4 linked regions of the Homo sapiens genome follow. The protein of the gene in region 1 interacts with the protein of each later gene in a pairwise test. Each region holds a gene or a part of one and is shown in the gene's direction. Other genes may lie near its edges.

Evidence for each region. The genes of interacting proteins can lie anywhere in the genome.
Region 2: the proteins of GLP1R (region 1) and TMEM176B interact in a protein complementation assay, tested with the Homo sapiens proteins (one large-scale study listed by BioGRID).
Region 3: the proteins of GLP1R (region 1) and SYNGR4 interact in a protein complementation assay, tested with the Homo sapiens proteins (one study listed by BioGRID).
Region 4: the proteins of GLP1R (region 1) and NRGN interact in a protein complementation assay, tested with the Homo sapiens proteins (one study listed by BioGRID).

Annotation. Positions count from the first base shown.
Region 1 is NC_000006.12:39,051,781-39,055,280, forward strand, and holds part of GLP1R (glucagon-like peptide 1 receptor precursor), read left to right. Parts: intron 1-3,500.
Region 2 is NC_000007.14:150,794,083-150,797,364, reverse strand, and holds part of TMEM176B (transmembrane protein 176B), read left to right. Parts: intron 1-790; coding exon of another isoform or gene 791-795; coding exon 796-999; intron 1,000-3,282. UniProt on the Homo sapiens protein: May play a role in the process of maturation of dendritic cells. Required for the development of cerebellar granule cells.
Region 3 is NC_000019.10:48,370,867-48,374,366, forward strand, and holds part of SYNGR4 (synaptogyrin-4), read left to right. Parts: intron 1-2,650; coding exon 2,651-2,888; intron 2,889-3,500.
Region 4 is NC_000011.10:124,742,942-124,745,325, forward strand, and holds part of NRGN (neurogranin), read left to right. Parts: intron 1-1,320; exon of another isoform or gene 1,321-1,954; intron 1,955-2,384.

The DNA of each region.
Region 1 (3,500 bases):
AATGAGTCCCTGTGTGTGCAACATCTCAGCATGCAACTGTACATCTGACAGTGTCTATGTTTTTGTGACCCTGCATATGATACTGTGTCTGTGGGAGGGTCTGTGTGTGTGTGTGGGGGGGGGGGCATCTTGGTGTGTGAATGGGTGTCAACTAGTGTGTGTCTATATGTGCAGGAGAGATAGTGTGCATGTGAGAGTGTCTGTGTGTTCCTCTGTGTGTGTGTGTTGGGGACAGTGTCTCAGCATGCGACTGTGTACCTGGCAGTCTGTGAGTGATTGTGTGTGGTGGGAGAGAGTCTGTGTCAGTGTCTCAGTATTGGGAATGTGCTTGGGGGCGTGTGTGATGATGCGTGTGACCGTGTGTCCACGTGGGGGTTTTTGTGACTGTAAGAACATGTGTGTAGTATTCCTTTTCCTGTCCTTTCGTTCAGATATCTAAAGCCCTTAGGGAAAAAAAATGGATTGTAAGCTCTGAGCTTTTGAAAAAAAAGAAAGAAAGAAAGAAAAACAAGGGGCGGTCAAAGAGACAGGGGTCTGTTGATGGAAGGGGTGATTTGACTTCTGGGAGGTGACACAGAGGAAGGAGGTTGGGGTCCTGGGAGGAGATGCCAGGGAACCTGAAGGGCTGGACTTAGTTGGGGGACTCCAGAAATTTGAGTTGGAATCCCTCCTTCCTCCTTCTGAGAGGCCTTCCTGCATGTCTCCCACCTCTGTGCCACCTCCTTCCCGTCACCAAAATGGTCCCCAGAGAAAGAAAGAATCTGATACACTTATTCGCACTGAGAAATAGGAGTGCCTTTCAGATTGGCAGCCAGTGTTTGGAGAGGGAGCCCCTTCCTGGGGTGTTGGAAAGCCCACCACCCCGGGGGCTTCCACTCCACCTGCTTCCTTCTCTGCTGTCCTTCCTTCCAACGCTGCCTGCTTGTACAGGGCTTGAGAAGTCACAAAGATTTTCACCTGCTTTATCTTGTTGGATCTGTGCAGTTTGAGAAGAATGATATGCCCATTTTATGGACGGCAGAACTGGCAACTGATGAGGAAACTGAGGTCCTAAAAGATAAATCGTGTCCCACAGTCCTGCATTAACAGAGCTGGGATTTAGACCAAGAACTTATAAATCGCTGTCCAGTGCTCCTTCCTGTAGACCACACCACTCCCTCCTGGTGTCCTCTTTCCTGTCTCCTGCTTCCTCCAAAAACTCCTGAATCTGAGGGATGCCCCTTCCTTCTTGTAACCTCCAACCCAGGTGTCGTCTCCACGTGCCTTCATCCACCTCAGAGAGATCCCATGAAGCCTGTCAAGTCTTGATTCTAGAAACTGCCATCCTGCCCTTCCCATGGCCCTTTAGACCCCCTCTGACCGCTGCTTTGCTCTCCTGGTCAGCTCTGCTGCCTTGTGAGGGACAGGGACATCTGGATTGCATCCTTCCCGCTACCCAGAACCCACAGCCCCACCTTGTCAGGCTTGCAGCAGGGACTTATGTTGTGGGAGGATGAAATGGAGGAGTGGGGGACACTGGTGGGCAGGGCCTTGCCCCTCCTCACAGGGCATGGGGTCCAAAGCTTCCTCCCTGCTTCACTTTGCCATTGGCTGTGGTTACTGCTGGAAGATCTCACAAATTAAGCAGAATGATTGGTCATTGGACATGAACATATATTCATTTCCTCTTTCTGGGAATATGTTGATCCTAGAAGTGAGGAAGGGGTGGGGCCCCAGTCCCCAGGAAGCCTGGTCACTCCCTCCCACTCTGCCCTTTCCACTAAACAGTAGAAATCATGGGGATTGCTGCCATTGACTGAGCCTTCTCCATGTGCCCACCATCCTAAGCATTAACTCAGTCCCCACAGCCATCCCATGGGGGAGGGGCTGCTGTTCCCTTTTGCACAAGTGTAAGCTGAGCCTAAAACATACAACTCTTGCACTCGGTTGCAAACCTAATATCTGGGTGACCCAGGTCCAGGCCCAGATCTGAGCCCAAGGCCAGGGTTGTTCAGCCTCCACTATGTTACCTGGGCACCCAGGCCCTATGGCACTGGGTGGCCCTAGCCTCATTTACTCAGTCTTTCCCCAGACCAGAACCTCCCATCTGTCCCAGGGCCCACCACCACTCTCTCCCTGCCCCAAAAAATCCTCCTGATAACAGTCCACAGCTCTCCTCTGCTCTCCGGAGCACTGATGTCCCCACCTTTGTACCTTTTCCCTGCTGTGCCCTCCTGCTGAAGTGCCCGCCCTCCTCCTTGCTAGCCCAGTCTGCCTCCAACCCCCTTCACCCCAGCCCCACCTCACAGTCCCCAATCCCTCAGGCCTCTTGAGTCTGCACTGAACCCTGCCCCAACCACTCCCTGAACACTTTCACCCACTGCCTTCCCTGTTATGTCACTTGTCCTGTAAAGCATTGACCCCCGAGTAGCCTGAAGACTCTCTCAGGCAGGGCTCCTGCAGTCACCTTTATACTCCCTGCATTCCCCTCCACCCACGACCACCCAGAACCTGGCACAGTTATGGTTTCTGTAAATACGAGGCGTGGGAGAGGCCAGAAGTCTGGGTAGTTTGCACTGTGTGTGCCTGCAGGGGTGGGATGAAGGCTCGAAGGTATTTAGAAGCCCTGATCTGGTGTAGGGAGGGGACAAGATACTCTTACTGTCAGGAATCCCTCACCTAAGGGGGAGCCACAGCCCCATCCTCAGGAAGCTCCAGTCTGAGGGGAGACACAGCCCCGTCCTCAGGGAGCCCCAGTCTGAATATAGTTTTATGTCCACAGCTCTGCTCAGAGTAGGTGACAGCGCTGCCCTGGGGTGCAGGAGGCCAGATTGGCCTTCATGGCGCTGTCGTTAACCCCTCCCCCCGCCTCTGGGAAGAACTGGCTTCCATACCTCTCTGCCTGCCCCAGACACACCTTCTGCCCCAGTTCCCAGCAGTGACCTTGTGTGTGGTCTGCTTTCATTCTAGAAACAGAAACCAAGGGGGATTTCTCCGTCTCTCTGCCCTCCACCCCCAGCAGCTGCTGCATTTAGGGGCAGCATGGAAGAGCCCTTTACCCGGAGAAGAGGGAAGAAGTGAGAAGGGAAACGGGGCGGTGGGGGTTGATCCACCAGGACTTGCTCTGATGAAAACTGTGCCACCTCCTCAGCTGTGGCTAATATCATGGACAACACCTTTGCAGCTGTTATGTTTGATTTCTTGTTCTTTTTTTCCCCAAGCAAATACAGTTGACCTTTGCCCTCAGAAGAGCTCTGTCCTTCAGGGTAGCCCCTGCCGCCTTGGCACACTTATGCCAAGGATGCTGCTGGGGCTTAAAGTGAGCTGGGCCCTTCCATGGGGCCTCCGAGGCAGCAAGGGGTGAGCAAGGCAACCCAAGTCTCTCAGGGAGGTGTGTGATAAGCCAGCTAGAACCCGAGACTGGATCCAGCATGTGCCCAGCACGCTACAAGGCAAGGGGGCAAGCTTCTAAAAAGAAGCTATTTTAATTTCAGCACACGTGGACATTTTTGTGATTTCAA
Region 2 (3,282 bases), on another chromosome or scaffold:
CTCTCTCTGTTATTTAGGTTGACACTTTTTATGGACTCATGTAGGATTATTCTAAAAACATATGATCGTGTGATCACAGCATCATGCAAATCAGTGTGTATAGTATGCTGCTATTTGTGGGAAAAGGGGGCAGAAATACTTTTTCACACTTTTGTATGCAAAAATGTCATGGTAGGATTTATAAGAGACTGATAATATTACTTTGCATCTGCAAGGCAAATAGGTGGTTGAGGGAAAAAGATGAGCGATAAGGTTTTAAAGGTATATATACCCTTTTGTATCTCTTAACTTTTTTATGTGTAAAATCACTATTGATTTCCAGTGCCATTGATATCTGCACTGGGAAGCCCCTTTGAATTTTGACAAAGACACTGTTTTTTGTTTGTTTGTTTGTTTGTTTTTGTTTTTTTTGAGATGGAGTCTCACTCTGTTGCCCAGGCTGGAGTGCAGTGGCAAGATCTGAGCTCACTGCAACCTCAGCCTCCCAGGTTGAAGTGATTCTCCTGCCTCAGCCTCCTGAGTAGCTGGGACTACAGGTGCACACCACCGTGCGGATTTTTGTATTTTTAGTAGAGAGGGAGTTTTGCCACATTGGCCAGGCTGGTCTTGAACTCCTGACCTCAGGTAATCCACCCACCTCAGCCTCCCAAAGCACTGGGATTACAGGCGTGAGCTATTGTGCCCAGCTGGGATCTTGACAAAGACACTATTTCTCTCCTTTCACCTGTGCTGTGTATTTTTCCCTCGCCTAGTTCCCAGACCTCACTGCTATATGTCTTCTCCCTGGCAGGCAGGATGACGCAAAACACGGTGATTGTGAATGGAGTTGCTATGGCCTCTAGGCCATCCCAGCCCACCCACGTCAACGTCCACATCCACCAGGAGTCAGCTTTGACACAACTGCTGAAAGCTGGAGGTTCTCTGAAGAAGTTTCTTTTTCACCCTGGGGACACTGTGCCTTCCACAGCCAGGATTGGTTATGAGCAGCTGGCTCTAGGGGTAAGACTGGGGTGGTGCGGGGTTGGGGGGCACGTTAACGAGGTGATGAGGTCAATTAAAATATAGAGCCAAATCTTCAAAATTAAAACGTTTTATTTGGGAGGAGAGAATTGCAATTTGGGGCATACACACAGACCAGGTGGTCTCCAGTATGTCTTTAGAACAAAGAGAAGGTTAGAGGCTTATAAAAAGGAGAAATGTTACATATTGCCCTTCATGAAAGATCATAGGTTTTGGGGAGCTGGTGAGCTCTGATGGGTGAGCGATGGCATGAGTAAAACTAATCCTAGAGTTGTAGCAAGGTCAGAAGCTGTAGATAAAGCTGGTTTCAGGTTGCAGCAGGCAGCTTCAGCAGCCTGATTTGTAGAGAATTACATTTTGGGAGCAACATTTTGTGCCCCGAGTGCTTTTTGCCCCTGGCCTCTCGACTCTGTTTTAGTTGAGTGTGACAAGAATGACCCCATTTGTAGGCTCAGCTTTCACAGTGGAAACTCTCCTTCTTCAATAGGATGCAAAAGAGGAAAGTGGGTTGAATTCCCATGAGAGGGACATGAGAAATCACTATTTATATCTCATTCTGTGTAGGAAAAAGTTGTAAGTGTCCCCACAGAAATTTGGATGGAAAGGAAGAATCGACCTCCTCTTTGGCACAGAGGAGTCGGTCCCAGCCAGAGGTAGGGCAACAGGAAGAACAGTCTAGAGGCTGTTAATTCGGTTTTATTGACCCCACATGGACTGAAAGCCTACAGGTGCAAGGCAATGTGTTCAGCACTTCAGGCCAAGCTACAGAGAGAATCCCTGGGCTATATCTAAAAGTACTCAGTGACCATCAGAAGGAACAGCAGCTACACTAATGACTGGAACTAAAGGTAGATCAGGTGAGGGAGAAGCACATCTGACATCCTTGAGGGCAGGAGAACCCTGAATGGAGAAGGAATAGGTATAGACAGAGGTGGAAGATGGACAAAAAAGAATTCCAGGTTAAAGAATGGCAGGAGCAAAGGCAAAGAGGCCAGAAGGCATAGGGCAAGTTCTATAATGGTTAAGAGTAAAGGGAATGGGCTTCATGAATGGGTGATTTGGGCCCATATTGCTGAGAGCCTTGAACGACCAGGTGAGGAGTCTGTCCTGAATCAGCTTTGACAGTGAGAACGCTGTCAATGGATTCTGAGCAGGAACCTGCCTCAGAGTCAGGAGGCATCCAGGTGAGAAGGATCGAGGATCTGCACTCACATAATCATAGCAGAAATGGTGAGGAGACAAAGGAGTCCCTGTCCTTCACAGACCTCCATGGCATGGGAGTGAAGGGGTTTGGGGCATAAGGAAAGAGAGGCATTCACAGCATGCAGAGAGGGTTGAAGTGTGGGTGACCAGGAGATCGGAGCCCTGAAAGTCAGGAGGAGCAGCCATTCGAGAGGTGTGTGTGTGTGTGTGTGTGTGTGTGTGTGTGTGTGTGTGGTAGTAGGGGATTTGGATGTGACAAATCCGAGATGCTGGTAGGATGTGGAGGTGGTGACAGTTGGGTTTTCCAGGAAGAAGAGGAGTTCTCTTCTGAGTCGGAGTTGGGTGTGTGAACGGCTTATTGGGGTATGACACCTATGAAATGAAAAGAGGGGGAGCAGGATTGAGCAGGAGGAACCATCAGGCTGCAATGCAGACTCTGCCAGGCCAGTGGGGGAGCTCCCAGGCAAAGGTTGCCCACTGCAGGAGTTCCACACTGGGTGGAGATGGCCCTTGAGCCACTGTCTTGCTTAATCATTGGCTGGGGGGCCCTCCTCAGTGTGTGTCTTCAGCTTGAAAAATTAGGGTGACCCTGAAGGAGCTGACAACTGCAGGCTGTCAGCAATCAAACAAGCCCTTTCTTGAAGGAGGTCTCAGCGGCACTTCTTTGTGTCTGCCACAGAGCCCTCAAGAGTGTGTGTTTGGATCTGAAGAGAAAGGATAGGCCAGAAGCTCAGGTCAGGCTGGGGGTTTGGATGGGACAATGGGACCTCTGAAGGAGAATGGGGGGGGAAAAGTGGGAATCTTCAGGTGGGATGAGAAAGTGTTGAAGTTGGGAAAAATTGATGAAGGATAAATAGCCAAGCCTATGAGAAGGGTGAGGGGAGACCCAGGCCAGTGCTGCTTCATGGATTTTAAGGGGACAGAATCTTCCAGAATCAGAGCTGCAGAGAGGTCAAGGCAGAGGAAAAGGAGAGGAGAGCCACCTAGGTAGGAGCCAGGCAGCTGGTCCCAGGGCAGCCGGGGCATGTGGACTCACGGGAAGGGGTCTGGTTTCTCATC
Region 3 (3,500 bases), on another chromosome or scaffold:
CAGCCTTTCTCACCTGGGCCTCCCCGCCTCCTCTCAGGTATGTTGGCCTCTTGTCTTGCCCACCTCCGATCCATCAGCCACGTGACCCCAGAGGGCTTCTCTAACCCCAAGGCTGACCCCAGCTGTCCCCTGCACAGAATCCTCCCATGCATAATATTGAATGCTTTCCATGGCTCCCCAAGTCCGGCTCCTGGCCCTGGTGTTCCGGGCCTCTTAGAGCCTGGCTCCCACCCACTTTTCCAGCCTCATCTCACACCAGAACCCTCCAGTGAGTTTCTCTCTTATCTCTGAAACTGCCCGCTCTGCAGCATCTGGCTTTTCCACATGCCATCCACCCTGCCGGGAATGCCCTTCCTCCTCTTGTCTGTCTGAGAAACTCCTTGTTCTTTAAGGTCCAGTTCAGAACTCACCTGAAATCCAGCCCTCAATCTGGCTTCCACCTTGACTCTCTCCCCCACCCCAGGCCCCAGCCTCCTCCCCACCACCCCATCTACACACCAGCTCGTCTTTGTCTGGCACAGACCTGCCCTGCTGCATTGTGACCATCTGGGACAAATCACTGGGGCTTCAAATTTTCACCGAATTTCGTTGATAGGAGCCCCCGCCCTCAAGGCGCGTGGTCCAGTGTGAGGAAGAAGAGCAAGAGGTCAAGGGCAGACTCAGAAGCCAGGCTACTTCTGTTCAAATCCAGGCTCTGACACTGACCAGCTGATTTTTTTTTTTTTTTTTGAGACAGGGCCTCACTGTGTCACCCAGCCTGGAGTGCAGTGGCACAATCAGGGCTTACTGCAGCCTTGACTTCTGGGTCTCAAGTGATCCTCCTACCTCAGCCCCCCAAGTACTTGGGACTACGGGTGCATGCCACCACACTGAGCTAATTTTTTTTTTTTAAGAAGTTTTGGTAGATACTAGGTATCACTCTGTTGCCCAGGCTGGTCTCCTGAGCTCAAGCGATTCCTCCCACCTTGGCCTCCCAAGTGTTGGGATTACAGATGTGAGCCACTGTGCTTGGCCTTTTGTTTGTTTGTTTTGAGACAGAGTCTTGCTCTCTCGCCTCGGCTGGAGTGCAGTGGCATGATCATGGCTCACTGCAGCCTCAACCTCCTGGGCTCAAGTGATCCTCCTGCCTCAGCCTCCCAAGTAGCTGGGACTACAAGTATGCACCACCACACCCAGCTATTTTTGTTTTTAATATTTTTGTAGAGACTGGGTCTCGCTCTGTTGCCCAGGCTGGTCTCAAACTCCTGGCCTGACACGATCCTCCCATCTCAACCTCCCAAAGTGCTGGAATTACAGTCATGAGCCACCTCGCCCAGCCACTGGCCAGCTAATTGGATTCGGCCAACTCCTTATCCTCTCTGTGCCCCAGTTCCATTATCTGAAACACAGGGCTGTGAGTAGTGCCCGTGTCCTAGGGTGGCTGTAAGGATGACCTGGGTGAGTGTTTATAGAGTGTTTCCGTGGTTTTTTTAGCAAATACACATAGAAGACAGGCATGGCCGGGCGTGGTGGCTCACGCCTGTAATCCCAGCACTTTGGGAGGCCAAGGCAGGCGGATCACGAGGTCAGGTGATCGAGACCATCGTGGCTGGCATGGTGAAACCCCGTCTCTACTAAAAATACAAAAAAAAAAAATAGCCAGGCATGGTGGCGGGTGCCTGTAGTCCCAGCTACTCGGGAGGCTGAGGCAGGAGAATGGCGTGAACCCCGGGGGCCGGAGCCTGCAGTGAGCCGAGATGGCGCCACTGCACTCCAGCCTGGGTGACAGCCAGACTCTGTCTCCAAAAAAAAAAACAGACGAGAGGGACAGGGTTACCAGATCAGTGTCGTAGTATTTGTCTAAAACAAAATCCCGAAGCCAAAAAACAAGGCAAAATGTTAATATGTGTTAGTTTGGCCAGGTGACACTGGGTGTTTCTTATGTTTCTCTTCGTATTTTTCTGTATGCTTGGACTATCTTGCAAATGAACCTAAGAAATTAATAGGAATTAGTGAGGCCAGGAGGGAAGAGACAGAAGTCGCAGAGGGAAGGGCTCTAAGTGCCTCCTCTCGTTTAGTCCTCAGAACCACCCCAGAGGGAAGAGCTGAGAGGCAGAGAGAATAATCACGACTGCAAACACTGATTCAGCTCTTCCCATGTCCCGGGCACTGTGCCAGGCATTTTATATGGGTACCTGGGTTTGGTGGCAGAAGGAGAGTGTGGGGGAGGCAGGGGTGAGTGAGGAGAGATGAAATTGGAAGAGTGAGGGAAGCGGAGACTCTGCAGGGCCTCCAAGGCCAGGCTTCAGGGCTGGGACTCAGTCCTGAGGCACTGGGGAGCCATGAGGGGCTGTGGCAGGGAGGGGCAGGGTGTGGAAAGACTCCCCTGGGGCCATGGTGGAGATGTGCTGAGGTGGGGAAGACTGGAGGTGGGGAGGCTGGGAGGAGGCTGGGGCAAGGGCCAAGGAGAGCAGACGAGGCCTGAGCCAGGATGGAGCAGAGGGGACGAGGGGCAGGAAGCTGAGGGCTCTGACACTGTGACAATGTCAAAGAGGGAGAGGTCCAGACGGACCAGTGACTGGGTATACGGAAAGACCGACAGCACCAGGGAGGAAGGAGGAGCAGCTTCAGGGAGAGACTGAGCTCTTCTCTGGCCCCTGGAAATCCACAGGTCTTCTCCCTGATCGTCTTCTCCTCCCTGCTGACCGACGGCTACCAGAACAAGATGGAGTCTCCGCAGCTCCACTGCATTCTCAACAGCAACAGCGTGGCCTGCAGCTTTGCCGTGGGAGCCGGCTTCCTGGCCTTCCTCAGCTGCCTGGCCTTCCTCGTCCTGGACACACAGGAGACCCGCATTGCCGGCACCCGCTTCAAGACAGCCTTCCAGCTCCTGGACTTCATCCTGGCTGGTGAGCCCCCAGGACCCCCAACCCAGAGCTGCCCCTCCTCCCGCTCACAGCCCTCCTGGCTCCCCAGGGCCTCCCGGGCACAACCCTTCACCACCTAGCCGGCCTCCACCCTGACTGTCCTCCCAGTAGGAGGCATCTGACCACAAGTGGCCCAGAGCTTCTCACTGTGCCTGGCACCTGCTGTCTCCTCCTGGGGAATTATTTTTATCCTTCAGACCCTGGGTAAGGGTCACCTCTTCTGACCCCCAGACAAATTATAGCAGCCTCCCTTCTGCCCCGTGCCTTCTTTGCATTTGCTTCCCTCATTTACAGAAAATCTCTCTTTTTTTTTTTTTTTTTTTTGAGATGGAGTCTCACTCTGTCGCCAGGCTGGAGTGCACTGGCACAGTCTCGGCTCACTGCAACCTCCGCCTCCCGGGTTCAAGCGATTCTCCTGTCTCAGCCTCCTGAGTAGCTGGGATTACAGGCGCACACCACCACACCCGGCTAATTATTTTTTGTATTTTAGTAGAGACGGGGTTTCAGTGTGTTAGCCAGGATGGTCTCGATCTCCTGACCTGGTGATCCACCCACCTCTGCCTCCCAAAGTGCTGGGATTACAGGCGTGAGCCA
Region 4 (2,384 bases), on another chromosome or scaffold:
GCTGACCAGGGCACCTTCCACCTCCTCCTCCCTCCCAGAAGTCCCTACTTCCTATGGAACTGTCAGGCACACACCAGCAACCTTGGCTTTGGAAAGCACCAGCCAGGCACCATGACCAATGAACCTCTTCCCAGGTCCTTTCAATCTCCTTCCACTTCCACCTGTGGACTGGCCACCTGGCAGCTCTGTCCTGAAAATTCAGCTGGTAGGAGAGGGAGCTGGTTCTGGGGAGGAACATGGAGTGTCGGGGGTGGCTTTGCCTGCTATTCCAGGTTTCCATTCTGGATCCAGCTGGGGCGGGCGGTGACAGCAGGTCGGGTCTAGCGTGGTTGGAGGCAGATATCCCTTCCTCCACTCAACCTTCCCACTCCTCCACAGCTGCGAGGCCAAGGAGGAAAGGTAGGTCAGGAATGCTTTTTTATGGTTGTCACCCTCTTGAGAAGAAGCCTCACTGTTCCCTGAGGATATCCCAAGAAAGACTTGAGCTCTAAGAATAAAACATTCCAAAGGAGTCTTTTCTGAGCACCCTAGACCTGTGTTTGGCCTTTCCACAACCATACCTGCCTTTTTGTAACTCTTTTTTTCTTTCTGTTTTTTTGACTCTTCTACCAAAATGTAACTCCTTTTAACTGTGTTTAAATCGATTATGGGCATCTTGAGCACGAATTGAAGAATGTGAAGCCCAGGAAATGAGGCTAACCTTGGGAAACATGGCGAGGGGAACCATTTATAAGCCGGGGCTTGGGCATCTGGAGTTTAAGCTTGTGGTCCTGGGGCAGAATCTGGCTAGGACAGTGATCACTGAAGCCTTCCTCATATCCTGTCCACTTCTATGAACCGGATGGATGATGGCAGGGAGAGCTAATGTGCAGAACTGAATTACCATTATTATGTGAAACCTTGGTCATCTCGTGTCCTAGAAGAAAAAGATAGTCAAAGCAGTGGAAGACTTCATGAAAAGAAAAAAAAAAAGAAGGAGGCAAATTCCTAGAAGCCAGTGAGCCAGATCAAAGGAGAAATGTCCTTCTAACTTCATAGTAACCATCCCCATCCTGACCCACACTAATACTGCAAGTAATGTTAATGCAACAAAAGGGCTCAGAGGCTGAATTCCTCTCCGTTCCATAGCCTTTCCTCTGCAATCTATACCATCAATCCCCTCACGCCTTCTACTTTCAGCCAGGGCAGGCTGTCAGAGAAGCAGAAACCTAGTTTGGGGCATAGAGGTGGGCCTGATTATTATTAGGTTGAACCATATGAAATTGTTATTATATGACCACTTTTGGCCTACAAAAATGACTATTTCACATTAACTTAATGTTATTTTTAAGACAAGCATAAAAGCTACCATTTATTGAGCAGCTAGGTTGTGCAAGAGACTTTATGCATATCATGCTGTTTATTCTTCCCCACGACCCATAGAGGTGGATACCATTATCCTGATATTTTAGAGGAAGGAGCTGAGATAGGAAAAGATTAGATAACTTGCCGAAGGCCACACACCTATAGCAAATGGTAGACCTTGGCTGGTTGACTGGGCTGCATTTTCTTATCCTACAAAGTAGGGGTAAAAATATATATTCTGGACTCTGAAATACAAAGGTTTGAATCTTGGGTCCACTGGTAACTGTCCGTATGACCCAGGTAGGTTTTTAAACAGTCTAATCATTAGTTTTATTAGGGGTAATGATAAAAAGGTACGTAATAGCTTTATTTTGGGGGACTAAATAAAATAATGCCTGTAAAACACCGTTATTGCACCTGGAACAAGGTAAGTGCTTAAGTGGTAGCTATCACCATAATTCCCTTCTTCCTCATAAGCACACCCTGGAAAGGGCTTCTTGCTCCTGCAGGTCTTTTCATTTTCTTTTCTTTTTCTTTTTTTTCTTGGAGTGAAGCCTTTTCTTTATCACTTCATCCAAATCATCTCCTATCTCCTGTGTTTGAGTTCATCCTTGGGCAGTGGAAAATGAAGAGTCAATGGGAAAACAATCTCTGGGCCTCTAGCCTTAGGTCGGGGGAGGCTGGCTCACTGACTAGTATCCCCATCCTCTCCCTAATTCCAGCTGTGAGCTTTCTGCATTTCTACTGGGGAGAGGGCTGGCGGACTGAGGCTTCTCCATCCTCTCCACGGAAAACCCTGGACTCAGACTGGGTCCTTCTGAGCTGGAGGTACCCTCTGAGAGCAGGGGGACAGGCGGCCACTCCAGGAGTGCCTGCTGCTGTTTTCCTTGCCCCTCCAAACCCACCCTCCAATCAGCTCTGCAGACCCCTAACTCGGTGCTGGTGATGGGCCTGGCTCTCCCGCACCCAATCCTGCCTGCACTTCTCTTTCCTGAATTGAGACATGACTGTCCACCTGGCCCTGAACCTTCTTCGCCTGT